Linked DNA regions of Homo sapiens. The protein of the gene in region 2 purifies or fractionates together with the protein of the main gene of each other region. This does not show direct contact. Each region holds a gene or a part of one and is shown on either strand. Other genes may lie near its edges.

What was found.
Region 1: the proteins of DBNL (region 2) and ERO1A fractionate together in Homo sapiens (co-fractionation; one large-scale study listed by BioGRID). This does not show direct contact.
Region 3: the proteins of DBNL (region 2) and CRYBG1 fractionate together in Homo sapiens (co-fractionation; one large-scale study listed by BioGRID). This does not show direct contact.
Region 4: the proteins of DBNL (region 2) and USP20 purify together in Homo sapiens (affinity purification with mass spectrometry; 3 studies listed by BioGRID and IntAct, with this or other methods). This does not show direct contact.
Region 5: the proteins of DBNL (region 2) and AGFG1 fractionate together in Homo sapiens (co-fractionation; one large-scale study listed by BioGRID). This does not show direct contact.
Region 6: the proteins of DBNL (region 2) and HSPBP1 purify together in Homo sapiens (affinity purification with mass spectrometry; 2 studies listed by BioGRID and IntAct, with this or other methods). This does not show direct contact.
Region 7: the proteins of DBNL (region 2) and P3H1 fractionate together in Homo sapiens (co-fractionation; one large-scale study listed by BioGRID). This does not show direct contact.

Annotation. Positions count from the first base shown.
Region 1 is NC_000014.9:52,684,883-52,689,284, forward strand, and holds part of ERO1A (ERO1-like protein alpha isoform 2 precursor), read right to left. Parts: intron 1-4,402. UniProt on the Homo sapiens protein: Oxidoreductase involved in disulfide bond formation in the endoplasmic reticulum. Efficiently reoxidizes P4HB/PDI, the enzyme catalyzing protein disulfide formation, in order to allow P4HB to sustain additional rounds of disulfide formation.
Region 2 is NC_000007.14:44,060,800-44,065,201, reverse strand, and holds part of DBNL (drebrin-like protein), read right to left. Parts: coding exon 4,286-4,402; 3' UTR 2,439-4,285; coding exon of another isoform or gene 2,272-2,438; 3' UTR 371-2,271; coding exon of another isoform or gene 190-370; 3' UTR 87-189; coding exon of another isoform or gene 1-86. Other genes in the region: PGAM2 (phosphoglycerate mutase 2), read left to right, coding at 1-86, 190-370, 2,272-2,438. UniProt on the Homo sapiens protein: Adapter protein that binds F-actin and DNM1, and thereby plays a role in receptor-mediated endocytosis.
Region 3 is NC_000006.12:106,366,808-106,371,209, reverse strand, and holds part of CRYBG1 (beta/gamma crystallin domain-containing protein 1), read right to left. Parts: intron 1-4,402. UniProt on the Homo sapiens protein: May function as suppressor of malignant melanoma. It may exert its effects through interactions with the cytoskeleton.
Region 4 is NC_000009.12:129,838,076-129,842,477, forward strand, and holds part of USP20 (ubiquitin carboxyl-terminal hydrolase 20), read left to right. Parts: intron 1-4,402.
Region 5 is NC_000002.12:227,520,170-227,524,571, reverse strand, and holds part of AGFG1 (arf-GAP domain and FG repeat-containing protein 1), read right to left. Parts: intron 810-4,402; coding exon 647-809; intron 1-646. UniProt on the Homo sapiens protein: Required for vesicle docking or fusion during acrosome biogenesis. May play a role in RNA trafficking or localization.
Region 6 is NC_000019.10:55,269,627-55,274,028, reverse strand, and holds part of HSPBP1 (hsp70-binding protein 1), read left to right. Parts: intron 1-4,402. UniProt on the Homo sapiens protein: Inhibits HSPA1A chaperone activity by changing the conformation of the ATP-binding domain of HSPA1A and interfering with ATP binding. Interferes with ubiquitination mediated by STUB1 and inhibits chaperone-assisted degradation of immature CFTR.
Region 7 is NC_000001.11:42,753,050-42,757,451, forward strand, and holds part of P3H1 (prolyl 3-hydroxylase 1 isoform 1 precursor), read right to left. Parts: intron 3,407-4,402; coding exon of another isoform or gene 3,352-3,406; intron 2,589-3,351; coding exon 2,499-2,588; intron 2,169-2,498; coding exon 2,116-2,168; coding exon of another isoform or gene 2,048-2,115; intron 1,942-2,047; coding exon 1,820-1,941; intron 1-1,819. UniProt on the Homo sapiens protein: Basement membrane-associated chondroitin sulfate proteoglycan (CSPG). Has prolyl 3-hydroxylase activity catalyzing the post-translational formation of 3-hydroxyproline in -Xaa-Pro-Gly- sequences in collagens, especially types IV and V.

The DNA.
Region 1 (4,402 bases), on a different chromosome or scaffold from region 2:
TAGAACTAAAGATTGCTTTAAGAAACAAATATATCATGATTCCAAAAACAAAAACAAACTTAGGAAAAAACTGTTAAATATAGCATGCTCCAGAAAAGAGATCTTTATACTTTGGTCTAGATATCTGCATTTTAAACTACTTTGGATTATATTTTAGGAAGATCTATAGCCTAGAAATAAATAATTTAAAAATCTACTGATAAGGAAGCAAATCAATAATACTCTATTGAAATACTGAATTAAGATTCAGTATTTCAGAACACTGTAAAATCCTAAACTTTCTTTTGAGAATATCACAAAAGAGTAATGGAAATTTTTCACCTAAAAGAAATAAGAATACTTTGGATGACAACAGCAATATTCAAGAAGAACTTTTTACTGCTTTTCCCACTCTTACTTGTTTTGGACTAATTCAGTTTCTAGAAATCAGATCTACATATTTTGTCATGTAATAACTATTTTCATTTCATATGCAAATTTGTCCTTGTTTCCTACTAAAAATTCTCTGAATACACAAGAATCTCAGAGTCCTAATTTTGGATACCAACAACACAAAGTACTTCTAACCTAAATGATATGATTTTTCAAACTTTCTTTTCAACCTTAAGAGCAGAACTTCTAGGGACAAAAAATAGCTGTTTCTCCCCTTTGATATGAATTATTATGCAAAGAATGACAGACATAGAGACTGCAAAGGCCAAAGGGACATATGCAAAGTAGAGACATTAAGTTACAAAAAGAAACACATGAAAAACTTGAGAGCAAGTTTCAAGGCATCCATTCTTCCCCCTGAGGAATTCATTTTTAAGGTTAAAATATATCTTCAAGCCTCAGCTCAGTATCACCTTTTTCAGGAAGCTGTCCTTCCAGTACTCCTTACCACCCGCTGGGTTAAATGCCTCTCCCAGCTGCTCCCAAGACACTCCACACACTATTATCTAAGTATTACTGTACCTCACAGCAGTGAATTTATCTATTTTACCCCTGCCCACTAAAGTATAAAATCCTTGAGTGAAAAATCATATACTTCCAGAAAGCACACAGTAGATGCTCAATAATTATTTGTGGCCTGTAATCCCAGCACCCTGGGAGGCCAAGGCGGGAGGATCACTTGAGGTCAGGAGTTGAAGACCAGCCTGACCAACATGGTGAAGCCCCATCCCTACCAGAAACATAAAAATTAGCCGGGCATGGTGGCCCATGCCTGTTGTCCCAGCTACTTGGGCGCCTGAGGCAGGAGAATCGCTTGAACCCAAAACGCAGAGGTTGCAGGGAACCAAGATCACACCACTGCACTGCACTCCAGCCTCGGCAACAAAGTGAGATTCTGTCACAAATAAATTATTACTATTTGTGGAAGAGGTGGGTGAATGAATGAATGTTGTCCATTGTCACTCATCACTGGAGACCAGCACCATACTGTCTCATTAAACATATCTAGCACCATGTCACCTATGGTGTGCTCAGTGCCCCAGAGTACACAAGCACAGGAGGCAGAAACACACATAGCAAGTAAAGCAAGCAGCAAAGGTAAACACCTTTTGTGTCTATCATTCTTCCTATCTCTATCCTAATTACAAAGGAAGCTCTAAGAAGCCCCAAACCAGAAAGAAATGCAAAAATCCTCCAGAGCAGAGGTGGCATATAGCCAAGAGACCTCAAAGGGAAAGAAGGCAGGATAAATGGTAGATTGGTAGATTTTAAAATGTTCTTGGCCGGGCACAGTGGCTCACGCCTGTAATCCCAGCACTTTGGGTGGCCGAGGCAGGCGGATCACAAGGTCAAGAGATTGAGACCATCCTAGCCAACATGGTGAAACCCTGTCTCCACTAAAAATTCAAAATTAGCTGGGCATGGTGGCACATGTCTGTAGTCCCAGCTGCTCAGGAGGCTGAGGCCGGAGAATCGCTTGAACCGGGGAGGCAGAGATTGCAGTGAGCCAAGATCACACCACTGCACTCCAGCCTGGGTGACAGAGCGAGACTCCATCTCAAAAAAAAAAAAATGTCCTGCCCCTTCCTGAAATATGGAGTAGGAGATATTCTTAACTACAACCACAGGTAGCAGGGCTGCTAAGGGAGTATAAGGGTGGCAGGAGTTTCAATGGATGAAGACAGCTCAGTAAAGGAAAGACAAGAAGATTCTCGGAAATCCATGCCATCTGACAACTCAGATAAGCCTGCCAACCTGATCCCTGGGAGAGAGTCTGGCAAAGATGGTGGCAGGACCAGTTCTAGAAACCAGAGAACAAAGCATGTTACTAGAATAGAATCTCAGGCTCATGCCTGTAATCAGCACTTTGGGAGGCCAAGGTTGGTAGGTCTCTTGAGCCTGGGAGTCCCAGATCAGCCTGAGCAACATGGTAAAACCCTGTCTCAACTAAAACTACAAAAAAAAATTAGCCAGGCATGGTGGCATACGCCTGCAGTCCCCGCTGCTTAGGAGGCTGAGGTGGGAGGATGGCTTGAGCCTGGGAAGTCGAAGCTGTGGTGAGCTGAGATTGCACCACTGCACTCCAGCCTGGGCAATGGGAGTGAGACCCTGTCTCAAAAAACAAAAAAGAATAGAGCCTCAGGAAAGGGCTAAGGTAAAATACAGTTAATAGACACAGAACAGGATCCGGGAAACAAAGCAAAATCCTATTACCTCAACTAAGACCAAAGACAGGTGGCAACCTGGAACAGGGAGGACTGGATGTTGTTTCAGGATGTGCTAAGGCTGCCTAAATAACTACTACATGGAACAATGCGGGTAAGGGGGAAAATTACTACGCTATATCCCAAAGTAAAACAGAACTCTGACCTACCACAGGAATCTAAATTTTTTTAAATGCTAATGTGTTTTAAAGGTTAGTATCCTAACATTTGAGGCTAACTGCTCTAGGCTTCAAGTAATGATAGCTTTTGGTAGAGGGCCAATCTAATAAGCAGAGATAAGAAGGCCCCAGTTGAGGAACAGTAAATAGGAGGACCAAGGTAGGCCTGACAAGTAACATGGACCACTTCAAAATTCCAGCCTTCTGTTCCAGCATGGTGGCTCACACGTGTAATTCCAGCACTTTGAGAGGTGAAGGCAGGAGGGTTGCTTGAGAACAGGAATTTGACACCAACCTGGGCAACACAGTGAGGCCCTATCTCTACAAAAAAATAAAATAACTAGCCAGGCATTGGGTGCACATCTGTAGTCCCAGCCACTTAGGAGGCTAAGGTGGGAGAATCGCTTGAGCCAGGGAGGTTGAGGCTGCAGTGAGCCATAATCATGCCAATGTACTCCAGCCTAAATGACAGAGCAAGACCTTGCCTCAAAAAAATAGAAAAGAAAAAAAAAAAGTCCTAGTCTTTTAAGAGTTAGAAAGCCTTGGAAGGCTTTCTATTACAATCTCCCAAGCAAAACAGCAAATCCCTCCATTCACATCCCTCAAGGAACAGGTAGTGTGTAACAATAGTTAGCGTGTATGTTCTAACATCAGACCTCCTTAGGTTTGAATCCCATCTCTGCCAGTCATTAGTTTTTCACTTTATCCCAGCTATTTAACCTCTCTAGGCCTTGGTTTCTCATCTTAATAGAAAATAGTAATAGTTCTCATCTCAAAGAGTTGATACCAAGATAAATAGTACAAAGTAAATTGTCAGTACATGTTAATCATTATTATTACCCTACTTCTACTTAAATGCTTCCAATGAAAGGGAAGCATGTATTACTTCCCAAAGCAGCACATGGCATTTTCATAATGAATAAGAAAAATACAGCCGAATTTGCAGCTAAAATTTCCCAAAAATTTGACATCTGTAGCCCCAATGGAACAAAGAACTAGATAACCAACAGTTAGCTGTGGAGGGAGCCTCAATTACCTTCTCTGTTGACTCTGTTTGATTTGACCAAATGCAAAAGGCAGGATAAAGGAAAATTACCACGTACCGCTTGTTCACTACTCTCATGTCAGAGGTATCCTTTAATTTGCAATGAAAGACAAAACAACACTTTCTAAAGTTTTCTTGTATACCAATATATTCTAGTCTTATTATACATTACCATTTTATTTTTTCACACAAAGCACTATAAGAATATATTCCTCATATACTTTTTTTTTGAGACGGAGTTTTATTCTTATTGCCCAGGCTGGAGTGCAATGGTGCAATCTCAGGTCACTGCAACCTCTGCCTCCCAGGTGCAAGAGACTCTCCTGCCTCAGCCTCCCAAGTAGCTGGGATTACAGGTGCCTGCCACCATGCCCGGCTAATTTTGTATTTTAGCAGACACAGGGTTTCACCATGTTGGTCAGGCTGGTCTCAAACTCCTGACCTCAGGTGATCCACCCGCCTCAGCCTCCCAGAGTGCTGGGATTACAGGCATGAGCCACTGCGCCCGGCCCTCATATACATTTTTTATGAAATACCTTTTA
Region 2 (4,402 bases):
AGCAGGTGAAGATCTGGAGGCGCTCCTTCGACATCCCGCCGCCCCCGATGGACGAGAAGCACCCCTACTACAACTCCATTAGCAAGGTGGGCTGCCTTTGCTGGGAAGGCCTCTGGGAAGCTGCAGAGTGGGGAGTCGGGTGGGGGCCCACTGGCTTGGGAGGGAAAGCAGCGTGCCTGTGTCCCCCAGGAGCGTCGGTACGCAGGCCTGAAGCCCGGGGAACTCCCCACCTGCGAGAGCCTCAAGGACACCATTGCCCGGGCCCTGCCCTTCTGGAACGAGGAGATTGTTCCCCAGATCAAGGCCGGCAAGCGAGTGCTCATTGCAGCCCACGGGAACAGCCTGCGGGGCATTGTCAAGCACCTGGAAGGTGAGGCCACCTTCAGGAGCCTGGGCAGGGTGGGTGGGCAGCAGCCCCAGCTGGCTTCTCATCTCAGCAAAGTCTCTCGCCCATGGACCAGGCTTTCTAGGCGTGGGGCTCCACATCATTCACTGAAAAAGGAGGGCTGAGAAGCCATTTTTTAGTTTTGTGAAATTTTCCCCATTTCTGTGTAACTGGGACACACTCCACAGGGGCTGACTGCACTCGAAGCTCGCTGTGTCCCGAGGTGGGGCAGGCTCCAAAGGTGGCATCTGCCAAGGGACACCCAGCTAGGAAACGGAAGGGCTGGGCTTAGAGCATCTGGCTCCAAATCCCAACTTACTGTGGGGCCCTGGACAAGCCACCTCCATCTCTGGGCCTCTCCCTTTTCCGGGGTGGTGGGGAGCTCCCCCTGGTACTGAATTCCTCTTGATGTAGGCTTGGACCCCTCGCAGGGCCCTCCCCCATCAGGTCCTCAGAATCCCTGCATGAGCTTCACCACCTATCTCCCTCTGGAGCCCCTCTCTGGGCAAAGGAAAGACCAATCAAAAGAGGGGTGCAGGACTATGGAGTGGCCAGACTCTGGGCTTGCAGCTGGGCTCCCACTGAAGAGCAAGGGCTGACAAATGGGCCCGGGATGCATGGGCGCAGTAAGGCCTCGCCCAGAGTGACTGGCACCTCCGCTCCGCCTCCCACCTTAGTATTCTGACACAAGGGCAGTCTAAATTAGCATCTGAATGACCTTAAAGCTTGTTGAGTCCTGGAAAGGCTAGAAGGGTGTGCCCCAGACCTCCTGCTCCTAGGGCCGTTGGGCAGTTGGCCAGAGCACCCAGACCGGCAGGCCCCGGAGACCCAGCCAGCCCCAAGCCTGCCCGCTCCAAACACGGACACCTGGCACCTGGCACTGGGGCCAGGCAGAGGGAAGGACCACCTGCCTCCTCTCCCTTCCGGAGACTTCATGCAGCCCCATGACCCTCCCACAGCCTGGTTTGGGGAAAGGGGACGCACTTTTGGTGGTGAATATGAGGGATTTCACTCTGACTCCCCAGAGAACATTTTCTTAAACCCTCCTGCACGGAGCAGGGGTGGAGTGGCGCGAACATCAAAGGTCGAGCTGCTATTCCCAGCTCAGGGGCTGCAGGAGGCAGGCAGGGTCAGGTTTCGACCAGGCTCGGCCTCCCTGTCCCTCCTCCAGCTCCATTCCGCACTTGCTCCTCTGTTCAGGATGTCTAGAATTTAGAGCACTTTAGAAACCAAAGGGTGCTGGGCACGGTGGCTCACTCCTGTAATCCCAGCACTTTGGGAGGCTGAGGCAGGCAGATCACCTGAGGTCAGGAGTTTGAGACCAGCCTGACCAACATGGTAAAACCCGTTTCTACTAAAAATACAAAATTAGCCGGGTGTGGTGGCGCTCACCTGTAATCCCAGCTACTTGGGAGGCTGAGGCAGAATCACTTCAACCCAGGAGATGGAGGTTGCAGTGAGCCAAGATCGTGCCACTGCACTCCAGCCTGGGCAAGAGGAGTAAAACTCCATCTCAAAAAAAAGAAAAAGAAAAAGAAAAGAAAAAAAAAAAACAAAGGGTGAGTGTCCCTTCCTGACCCTCAACTTCAGTCTGGCTGGAGTCACACTGGGCTGAGGGAACTATGGACAGCACCACCACAGATCACAGCCACTTGGGTGGGGCTGAAGTCCCCATTTTTTTCACCACTGGGCTATTTCTGTAGGCTGCTTGGTCTAACTCAGTTACTCCTTGACCTTTGGCAACATTTCTGTGGCCTCGTTCTCAGGGCTGGGAAGGAATTGGTGCCAGGGGAACTGGCTCTGTGGACCATAAAGGTCACATAGTGTCTGCTGTGTAAACAGGCTGGGGACAGAGGGGCTAAGGACACCTATTCCTTCCGGCATAGGGATGTCAGACCAGGCGATCATGGAGCTGAACCTGCCCACGGGGATCCCCATTGTGTATGAGCTGAACAAGGAGCTGAAGCCCACCAAGCCCATGCAGTTCCTGGGTGATGAGGAAACGGTGCGGAAGGCCATGGAGGCTGTGGCTGCCCAGGGCAAGGCCAAGTGAGGGGTGGGCTTGGGCAATAAAGGCACCTCCCCCAACAGCCTGGAGTCCAGCGCAGCCGTGCATGCCAGGCTCACACCGCCATCAGCTGTGGGGACTCCAGAACCAGGGGTGCAGCCACCCACCCTCCCCCACTCCATACGTGTGTCACCAGGGGCAGGAGCCTAGTACCCACACCTAGTCATCAGGACACTGAGCCAGGGCTGCAACCACTCCATGAGTTTGCAGTCAGGACAAGCCTGTGGTGACCCTGAAGCTTCAGAGCCACTTAGTAACCATGCTCCAGAATTGGCGTGCTTGGGGCCAGTTAGAAGAGGCCAAGTGACCCAGCTCTCCCCATGGGGAGCAAGGACCACAGCCCAGGACACGGCTTCCTGGACAGCTTCCTGCAGAGGGCAGGTGGTCCTCTGCTGTCCTTGCAACCCCCGGGTGGCACTTTGAGCCCTGCCTCTTGGGTTGGGACAGGCAAGCCCACAGGGGGCCTCAAAGCTGGCAACAGCCCAAACCTGGGTCTTCCATGGGAGTGGAGGGGAAGTTCCCTCTTCATGGGAGAGGCACCAGGAAGCCCTGGCGAAAAGGGGAGAGGCCTGAGCACAGGAAGGCCAGGAGCAAGGTTGGGCTCCATGCAGCCTTCACCCCAGGCACTAGCAGGTAACACCTTGAGTCAACCGCCTAGCAGTCTGCCTAGCAGCTCTGGGGCACAGGAGGGACCTAATTCCCCGGATGCTCAGTGGGTGCCAGGTACCTGACGCCACACAGTGGGCCATCCCATGTAGGCAGAGGCTCCCTGAAGCTGGGAGCAGGGCAGCCCTTGGCCTCTCCTAGAGGAACTGGAACGCAGGAAGGCTCCAACTTCAGTCCCATCTTAACATTTAGCCTCTTCCTGGTGGCTGATCATCATCAGCCACAGTCTCAGGGTGAGGGTGCTCACCCCAGACACGGAGCAGAGGCAGACACTGGGCAGGTGGTGGGGTGCTATTCCCACATGGGAGCATTCAGGCTACAGCAGGACAGGTGAGAGCTGCGAGCCTGTGTAGACCAAACTGGGAATTCGTGGTCCAAAAGCATATTTGTTCTTCAGAGACACGGATGAGCTGGGACAGAAAATAGGGGAAGACAACAGGCCAAGGCCACTCTGTGTTACTTTTCCTGAAGTCAGAATCAGTTGAGGCACACACTGGGGCCTGCAGGCATCGAGTGAGCCGCGTGGAGGAACATGTTGTGTCTGCCGTTTTTGAATACCCAGGGTGGGAGCTTGGCCATCTGCATCCCCACTTCCCATAGCCCAGGCAGAGGGACAGAGAAATGGAGTGGGGAGCACAGAGCAGGCTCCAACAAGACAAATTCCCTGCTGCCAAACCACCATGATCCACTCTGACTTTGGTCACAAACTCTGCTAAAAACAATTCTCTACGTTCACTGTTCCCAAGGGTCATTCTAAACAGTGGTGGCCACCACCCCTTAGAAGCAAGAGAAAAAGAAAAAAGGCAAATAAATGCAGAAGGCAGCCAGAGCCTCCCAGATGCCCCTGCTCAGGACCCTTCCCCGCAGCTTGGCAGTGGCCACTCAGGGCTTGGCCACAGGCAGGGCTTGGCTCAGTATCCTGTCAGGGGCAAGAGCCAAGCTGTCTGGGAGGGTCGGGGGATGCAGGAAGGATGTGTGGGAATCACCAGGCCATTGCTGCATTTGGGGTGACAGGCTGAGTCTGCCAAGCCGGAGGGAGCCCTGAGGCCTCATCCTCACTGGGGGTCCTATTCCTGGAAGAGTGCTGAATGTCAACTCCCAGGCCTCCTCTTCCAGCAATAAGGAAGCCATGTCTGAGAGGGGAAGGGCAAGATGTGCCCTCAGCCTCACTCAATGAGCTCCACGTAGTTGGCAGGGAACATGCCAAAATGGCCATCCGGCCCATAGCCACGCCACCAGCCTTCGTCGATCACCTCGATGCCCGTGATGAGGTTCTCGGGGTC
Region 3 (4,402 bases), on a different chromosome or scaffold from region 2:
TTAAGTGACAAATTATGAATACACTATATTACGTGTCACAGCACCAGCATTACTTCAAGCCTTGTAAAGGGAGTTCTTGCATAGGTACAATATCATACTGATAGGCTCTATCACTTTAAGTGACATTTTGTTGTTATAAAATATGGCTTGTGCAAGCTTTTTAAAAAATCATGAATTGAGTTATTTTTATTTTTGTTGGCTTTTTTTAGGTAGTAGGTGAGGTACTAATTATAGTAGAAACCCAGAAATTATCCAGTATGTCAATAACCAGACTATAGGTGCTGGCTGAATAACTAGTCACTCAATCTAGGGATCAGACAGTCTCATCGTTGTTAGTTTATGAAACTAAGGGAAGATTTCCAGGGGAATAGTCATCAGGAAGTCAGATGAGTCAGTTGGGCTCCTGTCAAAGGTGGGTACAGGCCAGGAGTGAAGGTATAGTACACAATGCAAGAGAACCCAAAAGAACAGCTAAGAAAAAATCAGAAAATCTGAGTTTTAGTCCTGCTTCCTCCACCTGCATTACCTTCCATGAACTTCAGTTTCCTTATCCTCAGAATGAGGGTATGGGCTTATTTCACAGAACCCTTATAAGCCTCAAGTGGGATAAAGTATCAGCAATGGTTTACAATCCTTGAAGTGTAAGGTCAATGTAAGGTGGAACCTGTATTCATTGCCAGGGAATCCTCAAGAATAAGTCAGGAGGTAAAACCAATGGATTCAAGCAGCAGGGCTTCTAGAGGCCTAAAGTTAGAGCAGCCAGGAGCAGCTTTCTGCAGCAACTGGTAAAGCAACTACTTGAGAAATTCTGCCATGCCTCTTTAGCATGGGCAGCAACTAGAGGGCCCCCCATCTACCACTTATCTCTGACCTTGCATTCTCCTGCCTGTGTCAGGGCAGAAGAAGGGGTACGAAGTAGGTCCACCTCTTGGTAATGCTTTTTTCTGACACAGCTTGGGCAGAAGCCCCAAACTCAGAATCTACACATGATACTTTCATTTATAATATATACTTTTGAATTTCTGTTTTAAAATCTTTTTTCATCTAAGATTTTAATGAACTTATATTTCTATTAATTAACATATTTCTTTCCACTATTTAACGTAGAAATTGTCTAGTACCAAAACTTAATTTATCATATGTATTTTAATTTCTACTTGTGAGATCTAGAGGCTAAATGAACTCATATAAGAATATAAAGAAAGCACCATTAACCACAGTGATTAACTTGCAGGGATTTACCTGCAGTGATTAACCACAAGGACTCAAGATCACCGGCTGGGGAATCCCAGCCTCACTCTTAATGAGCTCTGTGACTTTGACCAAATAATCATACCCCTCTGTGCCTGATTTTTCCTCAATATGGGACTAATAATAGTGCCTACCTCTGAGGAAAGTTATAAATTAACTGTAGTGGGTTAATATTTGTAAAGCACTTAGAACAGTGTCTGATACATAGTGCATATTGAATAAACTGCATCTCTCAATCAAATATTGATGGGAAACAATGTTTTCACAGACATGGTCTGAAGTTATTATAAAGCACATGCTTCCTCTATTTTCTTATCTTATATGCAGCATATATTATTTTGACCCTTGATCCTAATCATAAGATTAAAAAACGAATCCAAAGACTATCATGAGCTTATGCTACTACTTATAAACAAATTTGAAAAAAATTAAGAGGTGTACTCTGCATGGTGACTTTATGTAACTGTTGGCCAAATCTCATATTTGAGCTGTCGATATTACCTTTGGAATAAACCTAAATTCTAATGACTGAGACTCAGTTAGGGTTGCTAGCTTGAAATGGCACAAACAATAAACACAACCAGCAGCCAACTTTCTTCCCCACAGTATCTTTTGCCAAGCTTAACACCAACCTACTTTTACTCATTTAATTGCCATTTATGAGAAGGTAACAAACAAAAGGTACTTGTTAATTGTGTTTCTTTTTGTGTGTGTTAGCTATGGGTGCAACCTTTACTTGTCTATAACATGCCAGTGAGAGAGGTCGGGGACACTGCAAATGGATTCTGATTCTCTGCCCCATTTGTATGTCCTTGGGCCTCCTGGTACTTTGTCAAAATGTATGCTTTCATGAGATATTTATGAATCCATCAGTATTCTGAACACATTTAAATGACAAATCATGAATAAAATATATTATGTGTCACATTACTAGCATTACTTCAAGCTCTGTAAAGGGAGTTCTTGCATAGGTAACAATATATTGATAGGCTCCATCATTTTAAGTGACATTTTGTTGTTACAAATATGGTTCCTTCAAGCTTTAAATTTTTTTTGAAAACATGAATTAAGTTATGGTTGTTTATTTTTTTTTAAGTAGTAGGTGAGGTACTAATTATGGCAGAAACTCTTAAACTATTCAGTATCTCAGTAACCACACTATAGTATATACTGTATACTGGCTGAATAATTAGCAACTCAATCTAGGTCTCTGTTATGAGGGGTCATTGCTTCTCTTCCACTGAACGGAACAATCCAGAAGATGCACAGTGCTGTAAAGGCAGCACTAAGCAAGGGCTCACTCTCTAGAGGGAAGACTTCTCATATATTTGAATCTGTACAGGTATGTTGATGAGGCATTTGGGTTAGCCCAATGCAGCTATGTTTTAAGGCAACTGTAAATGAGCTAATGAGACTCATAAGCAATTCGCTGGTCATTCTTGCTAAGCTCCTCACAAGCATTAGACAGTCATACATCCTGTATCTTGAAAACTCACTTTGGGACAAGTTTTTCAAGGTAGACAGAAGAACACACCATTCAAGCTTCAAACGATCTTCTCATGTTGACCAGACACAGATTTTCAATACATAAATCACTTTTCTTCTGCATGGACATTCCTGAAACATAACTGACCCCTTAGCTGAACTCAAACTTTAAGACAGATGTGTGTGTGTGTGTGTGTATGTGTGTGTATGTATCTTTTTTAAGAGATGGGATCTCGCTATGTTGACCAGGTTGCTCTCAAACTCCTGGCCTCAAGTAAGTGATCCACCTGCCTCCACCTCCCAAAGTGCTGGGATTATAGGTGTGAGCCACCATGCCTGGCTCAGATATGTATTTTTAATGTTCATAGTAAGATATGTATTTTGAATGACTATTAGGAATTAGAAACTATTTCAATATCTAATATGTTTACTACATTGTTTTAATTGTGGACAAATACTACAGCAGCAACTCACTATCTCAGCTTACAAAAAAGATGTACTCATTTATTATTACGATTATTTTAGAGACAAGGTCTCACTCTGTCACCCAGGCTAGAGTGCAGTAGCATGATCATAACTCCTGGGCTCAAATGATCCTCCCACTTCAGCCTCCCCAGTAGCTGAGACCACAGGTGTGTGCCACCACACCTGGCTAATTTTTTTTTTTTTTTTTTGGATAAGCAGGGTCTGAGTTTGTTGCCTAGGCTGTCTTGAACTCCTAGGCTCAAGCAATCCTCCTGTCTCAGCATCCCAAAGTGCTGGGATTACAGGCATGAGCCACCATGCTGACCTAAAAATAAGATTTATAATCAAAAGCCATACATTCTGGCAAAACTATTAATGAAAAAGGGAGTATATATGTATTTGATTTTTTTTTTTTTTTTTTTTTAGACAGAGTCTGGCTCTGTTGCCAGGCTGGAGTACGGTGGCACAATCTTGGCTCACTGCAACCTCTGACTCCCTGGTTCAAGTGATTCTCCTGCCTCAACCTCCCAAGTAGACGGGATTACAGGCGTATGCCACCACGCCCAGCTAATCTTTGTATTTTTAGTAGAGACGGGGTTTCACCATGTTGACCAGGATGGTCTGGATCTCCTGACCTTGTGATCCGCCCACTTTGGCCTCCCAAAGTGCTGGGATTACAGGTGTGAGCCACCACACCTGGCCCAATATTTTTTTAAAAAAGAGCTAAAGAAGAAAAAAGAAGTGAACTCAAGTTTCGAAGGTCTTACTAAAGGTCCCCAAAAGGGTTTATGTCACTGCCACTTGATTATGGAGAGTAGATTGTGATGGAAAGTGTGGAAATAGAGGGGGGATAAAGTAATTCAATGACAGAGATAAGTGGCAAATGATTATCGTATGCTAAACTCAGACTCCAAAATCCCTTTGGGAAAAACTCCTGTAATGTCAAGTAGAAAGTTTAGCCTTGGCTTCCTCAGTGAGATATATTAAGACTTTTAAGGCACTGAGAGCGCATGAAGGGTCTCCCTTTTAGAGACCAACATGAACATCCAAATACTCAAAGGTACTTCAAAGCTTAACAGACCTGGTTACGACTTCTGGGCCTCTGAAGTTTTTACTCCACTCACAAAGTAACAATGTATGTATTAATACTACTACCATTACTATAAAGACAACAATAATTACAACTATCACTGCCAGTATT
Region 4 (4,402 bases), on a different chromosome or scaffold from region 2:
CAGTTGCCTAGGCTGGAGTGCAGTGGTGCGATCTTGGCTCACTCCAACCTCCGCCTCCCAGGTTCAAGTGATTCTCCTGCCTCAGACTCCTGAGTAGCTGGGATTACAGGCGCCCACCACCACACCTGGCTAATTTATGTATTTTTAGTAGAGACGGGGTTTCACCATGTTGGCCAGGCTGGTCTCAAATTCCTAACCTTGAGTGATCCGCCCGCCTCAGCCTCCCAAAGTGCTGGGATTACAGGTGTGAGCCACTGTGCCCGGCTAACAACAAATATTTAAAGGCAGGAAAGTGGCAGTGCTCTTTGGCTCCAGTGAGCAGTCATGGCTCAATAAATAGAAATTTCAGGAGAGCCAATTTCCATTGATTATAAAGACTTAGGTTTGTAGCAACTAGAGCTGCCCTCTGGGAAAAGGGTGATTTTATCATCAACGACTGCTCAAACTGGGTTTGGAGAACAACCCAGTATGGCTTTTACAGAGCAGAGTTGTGCCTTAAGGGGAAGATGCATGGTTTCTAAACCCCTTTAAACTCTGAGATTGCATGGGGGAAGGCAGCTGCAGATCATGCTGCCTGAAAAGAGAGGATCTGATTTCAGGCCCCAGAAATCATGATTTTCCTAGTTCTTAGTTTCCGCATCTCTAATGTGAGTTTTTTCTAAGGTTTCTAGTCTGAGCTTCGAGACTGAGTTTCTGCTCATGCTTACTCACCACTGAGTGTGAGGCTTTTAATGACCTGGGCCAGTGACTGGCTGCAGCCTAGGGTAGCCCCAAACCCACGCCTTCTCCAATTAAGGGACTCTTCCGGACAGAGCTCAGAGCAAAGGGTAGTAGCAGGCTTTGAGCTGCAGGGAGATACTGTCATATCCTAGACTGAAGGAAGTTAAGCTGAGCAGAAAAATGCTCTGAAGAATGACTCAGAAGAGGCTCTTGTGAGGAAGCTTCCTTGGAGTACGCGTGTTTGGATTTGGGGAGGTGAAGGTCGTCCCCATGCCAGGCTGGCCGGGGCTGTTTGTGACATCGTGGAGCTGAGTGTTCAGAGCATGGGCTTCAGGGCAGGTAGTCGTGGGTTCGAATTTTGGTTCTGCAGCTCAGTAGCTGTGTGACCTTAGCCAGTTATTCCACTTCTCTGAGCCTCGGTGTCTCCATTGTTAGTGATGGAGATGGATTTAGTTTGGAACCTTGCCACCTCCCAGGGTGGTTGTGAGGGTCCAGTGAGGTCACATGTGAGAACACCAGACTAAGATGTTAGTGTCAGTTCCAATATTCAGGGCCGTGGGGCAGGGGGAAGGGCGATGAGGAGACACAGAAGTGTGTGGGCAGCAGAGACTGTGGAAGTGTGGAGGCATGGGGAGGCCTGAGGGCTCTGCTTCGAGAGTCAGAGGATGGTGGCCTCCGAGTGAGGACTGGGTTAAGGGAAGGGGTGGGTGTGTCTGGGACTTAGGGAGAATGCTGTTGTGTGGAGGTAGAGTAAAGACAGCAGGAGGGAGAGAAAGGGTGTGCGAGGGCCAGAGGGGACTGTGGAGGGGGTGGGCACACACCCTGTGCGGGGCTGGGGGTGTGAGATGGCTAATGTGGTTGGGGTCAGCGTGGGCAGGGCTGTGGGCATCGTTGTGTGGGTGGGAGGCCCAGAAGTGTCGCCCTCCCCATCCTGAGGGACTGGTTCCTCGCTGGGAGGAGGAGGATGTAGCCAGAACCTCTGGGAAAACAATGAGTAACAGGCACCAGAGGCAGCCAGGTCCAGATGTGCTGCCTACCTAGGACCACAGGCTGTGCTGGCTGGTCCCTCCCCTGCCCTTCCTCAGGCCTTGCCCCTCCACTTTGCCCCTGTGGGTGGAGTGGCACTTTCCCCCACCCTGGAGGCCCAGGGAAGGAAAGCTGCCTTTATGAGCCTGAAGCATCTTGGAGGTCTCCTGGGGCCAGCAATGGTGGGCTCTTTGCCAAAAGTCTCAGGCCTTCCTCCCCCCATCCTGTGCTCTCCTGCCCCAAGAGAGGAGGCTCTGGTGGGCCGGGAGGGCGGGGCACACGCTGCACCTTGCTGACTTGTTGTACAGTAGGTCCTACTCTGCGTGGCTGCACCTGGAAGCACGTTCTTTCAGCTGCACAGGTGTCTTTCCCTTTTGGCCTTTATGAAATGCCTGCTGTGCACACTCCATATATTTGCACAGAGGCACAGGTGGGACGGAAAGAGTGGGGAAAGCAGACACAACCTGCTCGCTTCCTGCTGTGTTGCTTCCTGTCTGGGACCTTCCATTCCTCCTCTGTGAGATGAGAAACAGCCGCCCTTGCCCTAGAGAGTGGGTGAACAAAGCCCTGGGTACCAGGTCTGGAGGCTCAGTGGGTGCTGGGTCCTGGATCCTGCGATGGGGCTGCCTGTTCCAGAAAACCCGCTCCCTGCTCCCACCTCAAAGGTGAGAAAGGGAATCTATTTTTTTAAAAAGTCAAACTTAAGAAAAATTACAAGAATACAATGAACTCCCACATACCCCTCACCTAGATTCACGAATTAGTAACATTTGCCTTATTTACTCTAACTCTAATCTCTATAGTTATTGTCATAATTATTGCTGATTCAGGTAGGAGTAAGCTGCAGACATCACAGTCCTTTTCCCCTAAATATCCCAGCGGGAATTAACTAAGAATAAGGATATTATCATACATAACCAAAGCGTGAGTTCCACCTTTAGAAACTTTTTTTTTTTTTTTTTTTTTGAGATAGGGTCTTGCTCTTGTCACCCAGGCTGGAGTGCAGTGGCGCCATCTCAGCTCACTGCAACCTCCGCCTCCCAGGTTCAAGTGATTCTTCTACCTCAGCCTCCCGAGTAGCTGGGACTACAGGTGCCCACAACCATGCCCGGCTAATTTTTGTATTTTTAGTAGAGACGGGGTTTCACCACGTTGGCCAGGTTTGTCTCAAACTGCTGACCTCTGGTGATCCGCCAGCCTCAACCTCCCAAAGTGCTGGGATTACAGGCGTGAGCCATCACTCCCGGCCTAGAAACTTTCACATTGATGGAATCATGTATTTGTTTCCCAGACCTGCCATAACAAAGTACCACAGACTGGGTGGCTTAAACGACAGAGATTTATTTTCTCACAGTTCTGGAGGCTAGACGTCTCAGATCAAGGTGCCGACAGGTTTGGTTCTTCTGAAGGCCCTTTCCTTGGCCTGCAGATGGCCATCTTCTCACTGTGTCCTGGCTTGGTCTTTCCTCTGTGTGAGTCCGGATTTTCTCATCTCATAAAGATACCAGTAAGATTAGATTAGGGCCTGCCCTAAAGATCTTATTTTAACTTAATTACCTCTTTAAAGACATTATCTTCAAATATGATTACATTCTCAGGTCCTGGTGGTTAGAACTTCAGCATATGAATGGGGGAGAGAGAACAATTCAGTCCATAACAAATACTATGATCTAACAGGCAGTCCACACTCAGGCATGCTGGTTGTCCTGGGGATGTTCTTTGTGGCATCCCCCCACATTGACCCACAATCCAGCTTTGTTATGTCTCCTCAGTGTCTTGCCTGGAACAGTTTCTCAGCCTTGGTGGAGAAAGGGAACCTTCACGTTGCAGGGAAGCAAAGGTGCTCAGCAGGAATGGGGGTTCAGAAGCGCAGGCTGCCCCAGGACAGGGAAGCTGTTGAAGGGTTTGCTCTAGTCCATGAAGTTGCCTTTCCTGGCTTTTTCTTTGATGTCAAAAGCACCAGGAGGTGAGCTTAGATCTCAGGAAGCGCACCAAGAATCCGTGCATGAGTCCCCTGCGGTGTGTCTGACTCCATCACCATGGCGCCTGTTCGTTGCTGGGCTGGTTGGCCTGCAGAGCCCTGAGTGGTCTCATGGAGGGTGCCCTTCTGAGTGACCTTGAGCATGTGACTTCTATTCCTACCAATTTCAGTGTCCTAATGTATAGAACAGCCAGTGACACAAATTATAGTAGTAAACATTTTTTGAGCATTCTTGTCATGCAAATCAATAAAAAATCTGAGCCACCCAGAAAGTCCATGAGGCCCTAAGTCATTCAACTTAGCGTTTACTGTGCATTGGCTCACTTCATCTTCTCAGTAACCCTAGGTGCTGTCATTGTCCCCATTTTATGAATGTGGAGACTGAGCGATTTATCTAAAGTCACAGACTTGCAAGGGGCAGAGTGAGGTACTGAACCCAGGGCTACTTGTCCCTGTAATTTCCTTCCATAGTGACCGTTACCTCCCGGGATAATGTATGTGCAGCAGCTAACCCTCAGTGAGTGTAGGAAACAGAGGTGCTGGTGGTGATTATCACCTCCCTAGTGTCTGCTTGCAAGTACCCTGAGGTTGAAGTATGGGACTCTGTACACTACAAGAGCAGGGCCTATGCCTGGCTGTTTCCCAGCACCCCAAGTCACTGTTCCTAAGGAGGTA
Region 5 (4,402 bases), on a different chromosome or scaffold from region 2:
CAAAAAGGGCAGGATTTAATCCACAGTACTACGCCTCTGAACCATTCTTGTATAGGATAGAGGCTGCAATGCCACACAGTAACAGATCTGTCACAGCCCCATCAACTATAATAAAGTGTAGAAGACAAACTTTAGGTAGCAACTTATGAAAATATTCCATTTTGTTCATTTTTAAGAATAAGGTATAATGCAAAGTCCCTTGTGTTTCAATGATCAACATGCTTCACAATCACACATGTGGGAAAACTCTACTACTAAAGAAATCCCTTCCTAGAAAAGTGTATCAAAGAGACTATACATTCTAACTCTGATGGTCACCATAGATTCATGTTTTACAAATTGTATAACACATGATATATACATGTATACACACACACACATATATATAGCTATAGCAACATTCCTGTATAACTCACCTTTACAAAGTTGCAGAGAAGTCAAAGAAACTCATATTAGCAATAGCAAAAAGAACAAGTATATATACATTTCAACCACTTAACCAACAATTTCTTAATGTATAACAAACCATTGGAACATAATGCTACTGGCATACAAGATTATGCTGCTGTCTTAAACAATTCTCAAATTCTTGATACTCAAGCCCTCTTTAAGTCGAATTCCCTACAAAGATTCAAAGACTACTCACCTGACTAGGTGTGCCCTTATTTAAGTGCAGTGTTGGTGCAGAATCCCCTAAAAGAGATTTCAGTGGTTTGACCTCAGGTGTGCTGCTTGTGCTACTGGCAGAGGACCCTGAAATAGATGCATGAACTGATGCCACGACTTTGGCTTGTTCTGGCGGGACATACCTAAAACATGTAAAAAACAGTTAACTAAAAAAAAATGTAGGTAATTCTATATCAAAAAATGATAAGCTTAATTCTAACTTTGTACAAGATTGTTTCACCATTAATCTTATCTGAAAACCCTCTCACACAGAATAACTTTGCATATTTTTTAAAAAAGGAACGACAGCTTAAGACTACACCCATTAAATATTTGAAATACTCAGAGAAAAGAGAAGACTAACCACAAAACTTGTTTCAATTACTTATTTATGGTTTTTCTAAGATATTAAGTACAATATAAGAAATAACTGCTTTTTTTAAACAGAGGACCTACAATTAGTCATCACCATGAATAGTTCATACTATAATTTTTAAAATTATCTTAAGATCTAAATAACATTTGAAGAAAGATGAGGTAGGAAAACATTTGTAATATTACAGTTAACAGCCTAAAATATAAAGGCTTATTACATCTGTAAGAATAAGATCATCCCATTTTAAATGAACAAAAGAAGCAATTCACAGAAGACAGGAGACACAAAAATGAAAACACTTTTAACCTGACAAAAATGCAAATTAAGGTTTTATTCACCTATGAGCTAAGTGTGAACTTTACAATTTTTTATTGCTACCTACTAAAATATATAAATAGGTGTGCTTTGTGCACCAGAAGTGCCACTTCCAGAAACATCCTTAAGAATTGGTAAGTGTATACAGATGCATGTACACATGGATGTTAACCACAGTCCTCTCTTTATAATTTCACAAAAACTGGGAAACAAACCCAACATCTATCAAGGAAAAAAAATTTACGATAATACAATACTCATAGCTACTCTGCTTTGACATGGAAAGAGGAAACTTCACAGGTCTTTCAGATTTGATTCCAGTCATATAAACACATGATTTATGTGAGGAGGCGAGTCAAGAAAGGAGAGGTAGCAAGGATATAATAATGTCCAAACATAGGCAATCCTGACCTCTAGGTGTGGGATTATGTGAGAGCTTTTGCTCTTTGTAATTCTGGGTTTTGTCCTACCCTCCTTCTTATTCCCCATATGAAGTAGGTGAGGAAAGAAGGAAAACCATGCTTAAGAGCACCTGTTCCAGAGACAAGAGTTCAAATCCCAGCTCTACCACTAAATGGCTGTGAAACCTTGGGCAAACTATTAATACTTCAACTCTTTGTGCTTCCATTTTTTTCATTTATAAAATGGAGAGGCAGAGTTGCCTAGGTTTAAACAAGTTAACATTTGTAAAGCACTGAGAACAATTCCTGGTATACGTGTTAACTAAGTGTTCACTGTCACTAAACTACATAATAATCACAAACAACTGCTTTCAAGTAAATGGGAGAGATAAAAGATGTATGAGAATGAATACAAGAAGTTATATTTTCCCATAATTTAGCATACTACTAATACAAATTCTTCAGTATAGCCAAGTCTTATCAAAGGATAAAATCAAATGATAGTTATTGGTTCAAAAGACTCACCTGGCAAAGTAATATGCTACCATATTTTTACTATCAACCCACCTTCTAGGATTTTCTTCTTTCCTGAACTTAAATTTTACTGGTGTATTTTAATCTATTTTCATACCTGATGTCTTCTAGTATAACACAGAAAGTGATTTTGAGAACTGGTCAAAAGAACAGTTTCAAAATCCCTTTGGATAACACCATCATCACTGTTTTAAGTATAGTTACAGTGAGTATTTTTAGAGATGCTGCATCTGGATAGTGCTTATTCCATGTTAGAAACCAATTTCACTGCTTGCTAGCTGTATGTTACAGGTGTGCAGCAGTCTGGATTAAAAACATACAGGTCCTGGCCCTCTTAATGATGGTCACCTGTCCCACCACTTGAAGTCTCTATTTGTATAACTCTTATTATCCTGTTTCTCAGGAAAGAAAAAAAATAACATAAACTGTAATTATTTGAGGTTTCTAGGTATTTGCGTTATAGTTTGAATGAATAATACATTACTGTTATAAATGTGGGGGTAAGGATCTATGATTTTAATTCTACCAACTGTTACTCACACTCACTTTTCTGTTGATAGCTAGAGCTGACCATAAACTAATCCCTAACCAAACTCACTTTCTGAATTGGTAAAAGTAACACGGCTGAGAAAACAAAACTAGGTTAGGGCTATGTAAGGAGAACAGTCTTTCCTACAGGGTAGAATGTCTAGGAAATTCAGAACCAAAATGATAAAAGGATAATTATACCTTTCATTTTAAAAGAATCATTTATGCTACCATATTTTTACTACCAACCCACCTTCTAGTATTTTCTTCTTTCCTGAACTTAAATTTTACTGGTGTATTTTAATCTATTTTCATACTTGATGTCTTCTAGTACAGCTGAATATAGCCCTGACTAATCTTGCCTTGCAAAAAGTAGTCTATTTTAGGCCGGGCACAGTGGCTCACAACTGTAATCCCAGCACTTTGGGAGGCTGAGGCAGGTGGATCACCTGAGGTCAGGAGTTCAAGACCAGCCTGGCCAACATGGCGAAACCCTGTCTCTACTAAAAATGCAAAAAATTAGCCAGGCGTGGTGGTGGGTGCCTGTAATCCCAGCTACTTGGGAGGCTGAGGCATGAGAATTGCTTGAACCCAGGAGGCGGGGGTTGCAGTGAGCCGAGATCGCACCATTGCACTCCAGCCTAGGTGACAAAAGCAAAACTCAGTCTCCAAAAAAAAAAGAAAAATGTAGTCTATTTTGGAAAGTAGTAAGAATACAAATTTTGATAGAGCATGCAAGTCAGAGCTAATGTGCTCCTGAATGAAGGTAAAGACCTCTGCTGTAAACCACAACAAATGTTCCCTCAGGACCAAAACAGGCTCTGAACAGATTCTCTTGGGTTGAAACAGAGTTCCTCAAGCAAACAAGAAGCTCGTTACTTCCCCATTATTTATTCCCTCTATTTTGACTCTCTGCCCCATCTTGTTAACCTCCCAAGATGAAAGTATCCACTATGCAATACTATTAAAGAAATAACCAAAAGTTCATAGTTAATGAGTCTTAGTAACTTAAATTGTGCTCATATAGCTAAAAATGAAGAACCCTCAGTAGCTGAACACTAGCTTTATAGATATAGTCCCTATTCCATAGCAAGGGGCTTACTAGCTATATGTACAACCTGTTGGAATTAATTTTTAAAAATTAACATCTGATAGATTTAGTTAGGGAAAAGTAAATGCTCCCTTCTTAACCAGAAAGTAAACTGATTTCTTAGGTCAAAAGAAAAAATATTTTGAGCAAAGGCTACAACAGACAATTAAGTAGATGGATTACTACACCAGAGCTTTAGCATAGTGCCTAGTATACAGAAGATGAAACTCAATAAATTAAAAAAAGATATGACTCAGTAAATACTTGCTAAATTAATGATTTTTAAGAACGGAGGCTTTGTAGGGCAAAACATATTTAAAGAAGCTAACAGAGATAGGGAATGATTAGAAGGAAGAATCCCTAACTTTCCTGGTAATTATTACAACAAAAAGCCTGCTGCCAGGAACAGATGAGTTAAGATAAAGTAGAAGTAAAGGTTTTCAGAAACCAAACCAACAAAAAGCCAAGGGATAATGAATTATATACCTATCT
Region 6 (4,402 bases), on a different chromosome or scaffold from region 2:
AGAGACACTATCACCCCACCTGCCAGCGCACAAATGCCCCTAGATGTAGAAAGCCCCTTGGTCAGAACCCCTGCTGTACATGAATTCTTCTTCTTCTTTTTTTTTTCATTTAACCTATATAGAGACAAGACTTGCTTTGCTACCCAGGCTAGTCTTGAACTCCTAGCCTCAAGGGATCCTCCCGCCTTGGCCTCTGAAAGTGTTGAGGTTACAGGTGTGATCCACCATGTCCAGCCACAAATTCTTTTTATCCTAATGGCCTGTGAAGTAGGGACCGTTTGCATCCTCATTTGACAGGGGAAGAAACTGAGGTGTGGGCAGAGGGACACGGCCAGGTTTCTGCAGCTCCATAGGGCAGAGCTGGCCAGGACTCCCCCAAATACTGCCGCCTGGGACACAGGCACCAGGTCGGGCACAGGGACGGGACAAAAACCAACATCTGTGGGGCAGTTTCTCCATGCCAGGTGTTGACTCGCTGAATCCTTATGCACACCTGCTGAAGTTGGGCCCACTGTGTCTCCTCCACACGGGAGGGATCGGGCCAGGGGGTCTGGAGAGGACACACAGAGCCAGGATCCCAGCCTGGTGGAGCTCTTCGTATGTGCTGGATGCCTGCCTGCATGTGCTATACTAGCGCCCCAACTGGACTCTTTCCTTTTATTTTCTCTAACAGCTTTATTGAGATGTAATTCATAGGCCATACAATTCATCCTTTTAAAGTGTATAACTTAGTACTCTTGGCCAGGCGTGGTGGCTCACATCTGGAATCCTAACACTTTGGGAGGCCGAGGCGGGAGAATTGCTCGAGCCCAGGAGTTTGAGACCAGCCTGGGCAACATAGGGAAACCCCTGTCTCTACAAAAATTAAAAAATTAGCTGGACGTGGTGGTGCGTGACTGTACCTCCATCTACTCAGGAGACTGAAGTGGTGGGATTGCCTGAGCCTGGGAAGTTGAGGCTGCAGTGAGCCATGATTGCATCTCCAGCCTGCGTGACAGAGCAAGACCTGTCTGAAAACAAACACAAAAACCAGAAAAACAACGTAGTACTTCTTAGTGTATTCAGTGCTGTGCAGCCATCATCACTCTCTAATTTTAGATGTGATCAGACGCGTTCGGGGTGGTATGGCTATCGGCAGTCACTATCTAATTTTGGAACATTTTCTTCTTTTCTTTCTTTTTTTTTTTTTTGAGACAGAGTCTCGCTCTTGTCACCCAGGCTGGAGCGCAATGGCGCGATCTCGGCTCACTACAACCTCCTCCTCCCAGGTTCAAGCAGTTCTGCCTCAGCCTCTCAAGTAGCTGGGATTACAGGCGCCCGCCACCGCGCCCGGCTAATTTTTGTATTTTTAGTAGAGACGGGGTTTCACCCTGTTGGCCAGGCTGGTCTCAACCTCCTGACCTCAGGTGATCCACCCGCCTCAGCCTCCCAAAGTGTTGGGATTACAGGCGTGAGCCACTGCGCCCGGCCAAAATTTCAGAACATCTTCATCCTCTCCCCCAAGCAGAAATTCTGTACCCGTTAAGCAATCACTCGGCGTCCGTCCTCTCCCGCAGCCCCTGCAACATGAATCTACTTACTGCCTCTAAGGATTTCCCTCTCCGGGACATTTGTACAAACGGAATCCCACACCGTGAGGCCTTTTCTGCCTGGCTCCTTTCATATGCTGCAAGGTCCCCGAGTGGTGGCGGGTGGCAGTGCTGTGTTCCTTCCCGCGGCTGAATGTGTCCTGTTGCGTGGGTCCACCGTGCCCTGCCTCTTCCTCCGCCTGTCTGCTGACAGTCCCTGGTTTCCTTGTATCTCTGGGCTCTCGTGCTCCTGTGGACATAGCTGCGCAGGTGTTTTTATGGACATTTGTTTTCCGTTCTCTTGGGTGTATACCTAGCAGTGGAGTTGCTGGGTCATATCGTAACTCTACATTTAATCTGTTCGAGGTTGGCTTTTTTTTTTTTCTTTTTTTGTTTCTTGAGACGGAGTCTCGCTCTGTGGCCCAGGCTGGAGTGCAGTGGCGCAATCTCGGCTCACTGCAACCTCCACCTCCCAGGTTCAAGGGATTCCCCTGCCTCAGCCTCCCAAGTACCTGGGTTTACAGGCACATGCCACCATGCCCAGCTAATTTTTTTTGTACTTTTAGTACAGAGAGACGGGGTTTCACCCTGTTGGCCAGTCTGGTCTCAAACCCCCGACCTCAGGTGAGCACCTCAGCCTCCCTAAGTGCTGGGATTATAGGCATGAGCCACTGTGCCTGGCCTGAGGTTGGCTATTTTTTAATTCCAGCAGCCTATCTGGTCATTGAAATGGGGGCTGTGAGGGGGGTCCAACACCCTCTTTCTCTCCCTCACCCCCATGTATCCTGAGTCCTGGAATCAGTGTTGTGTTCCTGGCAGATGGTGGCCCCAGCCATGCAGAGGCTGGGAGGAGAACAGGGAGGGTTTGGGTAGGAGGAGATTCCGGAAGAAGGAAGCATTCTGATGAGGCAAGGAAAGGGGCACTTGGAAAGTCACAGCCAAAACTAGGGTGACAGGGACAGACAGACATGGGGCAGCTCGGCCACAAAGGGCAGAGAGAAGGACATGGTGTCCCGAGGGCCAGAGCAGGGTAGAGAGGGGCTGGCAGAGTTTTCTTCTAATAGCTTGCATTAAAAAAGAAGTCTTTAGGTCATCTTGGTGGTTCACACCTGGTCCCACCTACCTGGGAGGCTGAGGAGGGAGGATCATCTGAGCCTGGGAGGCAGAGGCTGCAGTCAGCTGAGATCGTGCCACTGCACTCCAGCCTGGGTGACAGAGTGAGACCCTGTCTAAAAAAAAAAAAAGTCATTACATATTTTTAAAAATCTGTGAGACAGTCACATCGTTCACCAGGTACAAAAGAGTACATAGCAAATGGTCCCTGTCCCCAAACCTGGTCCCCATTCCAGAGAAAACCACTGTTATACCTGTTTCTGCTTCCAGAGATTTTAATAAATCTGTAAGAACAAATGTGGGTGTGTGTGGTGTGTGTGTGATGTGTGTGTGTAGTGGGTGTGTGGCGCGTGTGTAGGGTGTGTATGGTGTGTATGTGGGGTGTTTGGCGTGTCGTGTGTTAGTGTAGCGTGTACATGGGTTGTGTGGTGTGTGGTATATATGTGGAGGTGTGTGTGGTGTGTGTGTTGCATGTGTATGTGTGTGGGATGTGTGTGCTGGGGGGATGTATGTATATGTGTGGGGTATGTGGGGTGCATATGAGGTGTGTATGTGTGGTGCGTATGTGTGGTGTGTGGATGTGCATGGCGTGTGTGGGATGTGTGGATGTGGTGTGTGTATACGGGGTGTGTGGTGTGTGCTTATGTGGAGTGTGTCGTGTGTGGTATGTGTGCACACAGACACACGGATTAATCTCGTTTCCTCAGATGTGCACGGCTGGCACAGGCCATCCTGACTGTGGCGCACCTTGACCTGCCTCTGTCCTTTTTTCTTAAGCAACAGTAGCTTATCTTTCCCCTTCCTGCGGGTGAGGAATGCAGCAGTGGCCCCTGCTGAGGAGGGCGGCTTCTGGCTTTGCGTCTTCATGAGGTTGCATGAGGTTGCATGAGGTTGTGGTCAGCCGTCAGCCGGGCCTCGTTCCCTGAAGGTCTCATTGCACTAAGCCCTGTGCGCTGCACCTCATTGATCCCTCACAATCCCCCTCTGAGGAAGGGGTGCTAGAGATGGGCTTCCACCATGGCTCGCCCCGGGGCTAGCAGAGTTTTGCTGGCAGTTGGCAGGAAGCTCGGGCTGCGTGAGCGGCCTCACCACGTGGTGGTCGGCTTCCCCAGCGAAAGTTGTGCACGATGCAGGGCAAGAGCTCTGGGAGCTTGGATGCCATTCTTTTTTTTGCTCGGGGGTAAAATTCACATGAAAATGTTAAAGTATACCATTCAGTGGCATCTGTCCTTTTTTTTGGTGGCTGCAGGGTATGCCATTGTGTGGCTGTCCAGTACCATTACTGGAGTTCCGTGCTGGGAGCCATTTGCAGGGTACGTCCCCTCAGCTCCTGCTGCCCGAGGCGGTGGTGCCACTGCCCTTCCCAGGACAGGAGGGGATGGACTCGCTCGCCCTCTGTGGAGCCACTCCAAAGTGGTTCCTTGTTACAGTCTACCAGAGTGGCACATTTATTACAATCGATGAACCTACATGGACACCTCATTGTCACCCAGAGTCCATAGTTGACACTGGGGCGCACTCTTGATGCTGTATGTACTATGGGTTTGGACAACTGTATCATGACATGGATCCATACTGTAGTATTCTACAGAGGAATCTCGCTGCCCTACAAATCCTCTGTGCTCCCGCTAGTCATCCCACCCCTGAGCTTTTTACTGTCTCCATAGTTTTGCCTTTTCCAGAATGTCATATGCTTGGAACCATGCAATCTGCAGCCTTTT
Region 7 (4,402 bases), on a different chromosome or scaffold from region 2:
AAAATGTTCTCATCTGTCAAACAGCATCTACCTTATATGTTTGATGCCAGTATAATGTTAAGAACAAGGAAGGCAAGTTAAAAGCTTAGTACAATATTTGGCATATGGTAAGTCCTCAAAAGTTTGGCTACCATGGTATCATCATCATTATTCATTTAAAATAAGGATCTTGCAATCTGCATGACTCACCTCTCAGTTATAAGAATCAAGAGAAATAACAAAGTGAAAGTGGTCTGAAAACAAAGGAATGCTGGACAAATTCTTTTCATACGCTAATCTTGTTTAATTAACCACTGTTAATTTAAGCAACTATAGGGCAAAGGTCAACATTTCTCTCTTACAGTTCTCATGGTGTTTCTCTGTGCTAGGGACATACTAATACTAGAGACTCAGTTCAACTCCACTTGATAACTGAGGCCTCAGTGTGTACCAGGAACTGTGCCAGATAGGGTGAGAGATGAATCCTAGAAGACAGTACCTGTTCTCTAACAATTATGCAAATAACTAGCATAAGACAGACCATAAATGCCCTAAGAAGTTCAAAAGAAAGGAGGGGACTCCAATCATCTGGGAGGTTAAGAAAGGCTTTACGGCAGGGCACAGTGGCTTATGCCTATAATCTCAGCACTTTGGGAGGCCAGGGCGGGTGGATCACAAGGTCAGGAGTTTGAGACCAGCCTGGCCAACATGGTGAAACCCTATCTCTACTAAAAATACAAAAAAATTAGCCAGGCATGGTGCCACATGCCTGTAATCCCAGCTACTTGGGAGGCTGAGGCAGGAGAATTCCTTGATGATCCCGGGATGTGGAGGTTGCAGTGAGCCAAGATTGCACCACTGCACTCCAGCCTGGGCAACAGAGCAAGACTCCATCTCCAAAAAAAAAAAAAAGAAAGGCTTTGCAGGGTATATCTCAGATGCCCTCATGGGCAGGGATGGTGGGAAGCGTACTAGGAGAGCCAGGCATAAACACAGACTGGTGGGCAGTGGGCGGGCTCACGGAACAAAGTGCAGTCCTGTGTGAAGAGACGGTGTAAACAGGACAAGAGTAGAACATTCGGTTAAGGGGCAGGCACGGAGGATGGGTCAGAGGCCAGTGTCTGGAAGACTGGCCTAGCTACCTTGTGTGGGCAGGGGCAAGGACAGGCCAGACGGGGAAAGGGTGGGTGCAGATAGGAGGTGCCAGGGCCTGAAGGAAGCCTGAGGCAATGAAAAACGGAAAAGGCTGGGGAGAGAGCTGAGAAGCACTGCAGAGCAGAGCCACAATCAGTAGGCCTTCCCAGCAGCTTGCAGAAAACGGGCACAGGAGGAAGAGGAGCCAAAGGAGGCCTGAAGGCGTTGAGTCTCAGTAAAGGGACGAATGGTGAAAACCGGGAGAAAACAGTTTGGGAGTGGGGAGACAGGATGAGTTAATACCTATGGAAGTGGACAACACTAGTCACTCATGTTTCTGTGACACAGAAGTCTCATTTCTTTCTTTTTTTTTAAAGATGAGGTCTTGCTATATTGCCCAGGCTGGATTCAAACTCCTGGGCTCAAGCGATCCTCCTGCCTCAGCCTGCCAAGTAGCTGGGATTACGGGTGTGCACCACTACATCCTGGAGTCTGATTTCTGAGCCAAAGGCTGATTCTCAGTGCTCTTTCCAGCTGAAAGTCCCGCTGGTGAGTTAGGAAGGATGTCCACTGAACTTGCACCCTAAGGGTGGCTGGCTCATGGTGAGCTCTGCAATGCTGGGGTGGAGCGCTGCCTGGCAAATGTGGGGTGACCTGCCTGGCTCCCTGACAACAGCCAGACATGCCCCTATTTCTGTCCTCTCACCTTCCCGGGTCAGTCTGCTCACATCCAGTGACTCCTTGGTCTTCTCTTCCACAAGGGTCTCGATTTCCTTCATAAGGTTCCCAATCTCCTGGGAGATGCGTACGGCTGTTTCCCGTTCTGACCTATGAGCACAGCCGCTCTGAGGACTGCATTCCAGGGCCAGCCCTGGGCTCCACCCCGACTTCCCAAACTGGACCTGCCCACCCCTTGCCAGGAGTTCACATCTGCCTGGGCTCAGGAAGCCTCAAGTGCTTCATCAGACTGATCCAACCATGCAGTTTCTTCAAGGTCCTCACTTCTGTTTCTCTTGCAATCTCTTGGGAATCACTTCTTCTGGAGTCCATGAATCCTAAGTAGGTCAGGAAGAAATGAAAAAGGTAAGATGATCTACTTAATCTTCCAGGTGTCTCAATGCATAAAATAAGGCCCACAGGAGTAATCCAGCTTATCACCCTCTTCCTTTCAGGAGACAAAATGGGAGGTTTCCACATCTAAGTCCCTTCTAGCTGCCCAGTGTTCCCCTTTCATCTGTCTCTCATCCCTGCCTTGCACAGATCCCAGGCTAGGCTCAGCCTCCAGCAAGTTTTCTCTCAGAATCGCACAGTGTTCCCCTCCTCCCCATTCATCTCTCCTGCTCACTCTTTCCCCGCTCCCTTCCGGCTCCTGTACCCTAGCTCACCGGATCCACAAAGGGAATTCCAAAAACATCATAAGCGAAGAAAAGCAGTTCTTTTTCCAGTAGGCTTCGCTGTCGGTACTCCTTGGCACTCTGAGGGTAAAAAAGCAAACAAATCCCCCAGAACTCAGCCCTGTCTTTTAACCTCTGGGAGTTCCCCTCCCTGGCACCCCACACTGATGCTCCCATGTGACCTGAGGCCTCCTCTCCCTACCAATGCTCTCTGTCTGTTCCCCAGTTTGAGACAAAAGTCTAATTTCTGTGTCCTCTGCCTGGCACAAGCAACAGTACCTCTGAGGTACTGGAATAACCAGGCTTTCCTTAAGGGAAAAAGCCCTGCTCCTCCCCCATCCCAACCCCCATTAGTCTCTAGGACAGATAATCTGATGATTCTCAAAAGTGGAAATATTCTTCAAAGAAGGAGAATTCCTTCTTGACTTCTACAGGAGTCCACAAAGCAGGAAAAGGAATCAGGCATTAGGCAACTGACATGTTATTCATTTGATCTTTTATAGCCACATCTGAGGTTGATACTAGTATGCTCATTCTACAGAGGAAGCATCTGAGGCACAGAGGAGATGTACCACTGTCTAAGGTGACACTACAGGACATGGGAGAGCAGCGACCTACAGTCAAACCCAGGTCTTCTGTTATCTTTTTCTTTTTTTTCATAGCAGAATGTGCATTTGGACAGATAAAGCCGGGTCTTTACAGTCCTAAAGCCCATGTGCTTTCTGCTCTGCCACCTGCCTCCTCTCAGACCCTAACCAGACCACACCCCTCCCTGAGGATAAGCAGCTAAAGGGGAGGGCCTGGCACTCTGGGCTTCCCACATGGACTCCCAGGCAAGGCTTACCCAGGGCAGGGAAACTGAGTACTTTCCGGGGTCACATCTTTCCCTAGGTGCCCTGCTAATCTCCAAGCAGCAGGAGGAGGAAGGAAGAGAAAAAGGAGACATCAGTTGAAATAAAACATGAGGCAGTTCAAGGAGGAATTAAAGGAGTCAATGAATCCTATGTCATCTACTATATTTACCTAAGAGGAAGAGAGACGTTTTCTCTTCAGGAGTTTACATTACTGGCTTCTGTCACCAAATGCTATGTTATCTCATTTAACCCTCTCCAATGACCCTATAAGGCTGCTATGAAGCAAACCCCACTTCCATCTTTATTCATTCGATGCTGATTTACTGAGTGTCAGCCATGTGTCTGGAGCTGTGCCTGCACTGGGTCCAAGCAGGGAACAGATTCCGGTCACCACTGACTGGCCACAAGCCACTGCACAAGTTACTTCATCTCTCAGATGCTAACAGTCCTCATCCCTAAAGTGGGAAGAAGAGTGCCAACCTTGCAGGGTGGCTGTGATGATTAAATGAGATGATGGATACAGCCCACCCCGCACAGAGCTTCGCCTGGACAGCGGCTCAACAAATGTTAGTTGCCTTCTTTCCAAAAGGGGACTTCTAGTTAAAAATGCTAGATTGGCCACGTGGGTTTATTTCCCCTCACTCCCCTCAGACTCCCCTTAATGGCCATAAGGAAGGCAGGGAAAAGGTATTAACCAAACAAGACAAAAGAGACCGGAAGTGCCATCTTAAAGCCAGATGGTCACCATCTAGTGGCTAAAGAGGACAACTACAATGACAACCCACACAGGAGGGGCAGCAAGAGGCTGTTTCTACTGGAGGCTCTCAGACTCCAGAGCTCGGAAGAAGAGCCTGGGTGTCTCCTTTCAGCGCAGCAGTCTTTGTGTTATACAGATATTTCTCCTGGTTTTGGAGAGAGACAGGGAAAATGCTGAAAGATGGGAGAGAACAAACAATGGCAGGAAGAAGAAGAGATGGGAAAGAAAATGGAGACAGAAAACAGGTGAGCAGAAAAAAAACAACCAGTATTAAGTGAAAAATG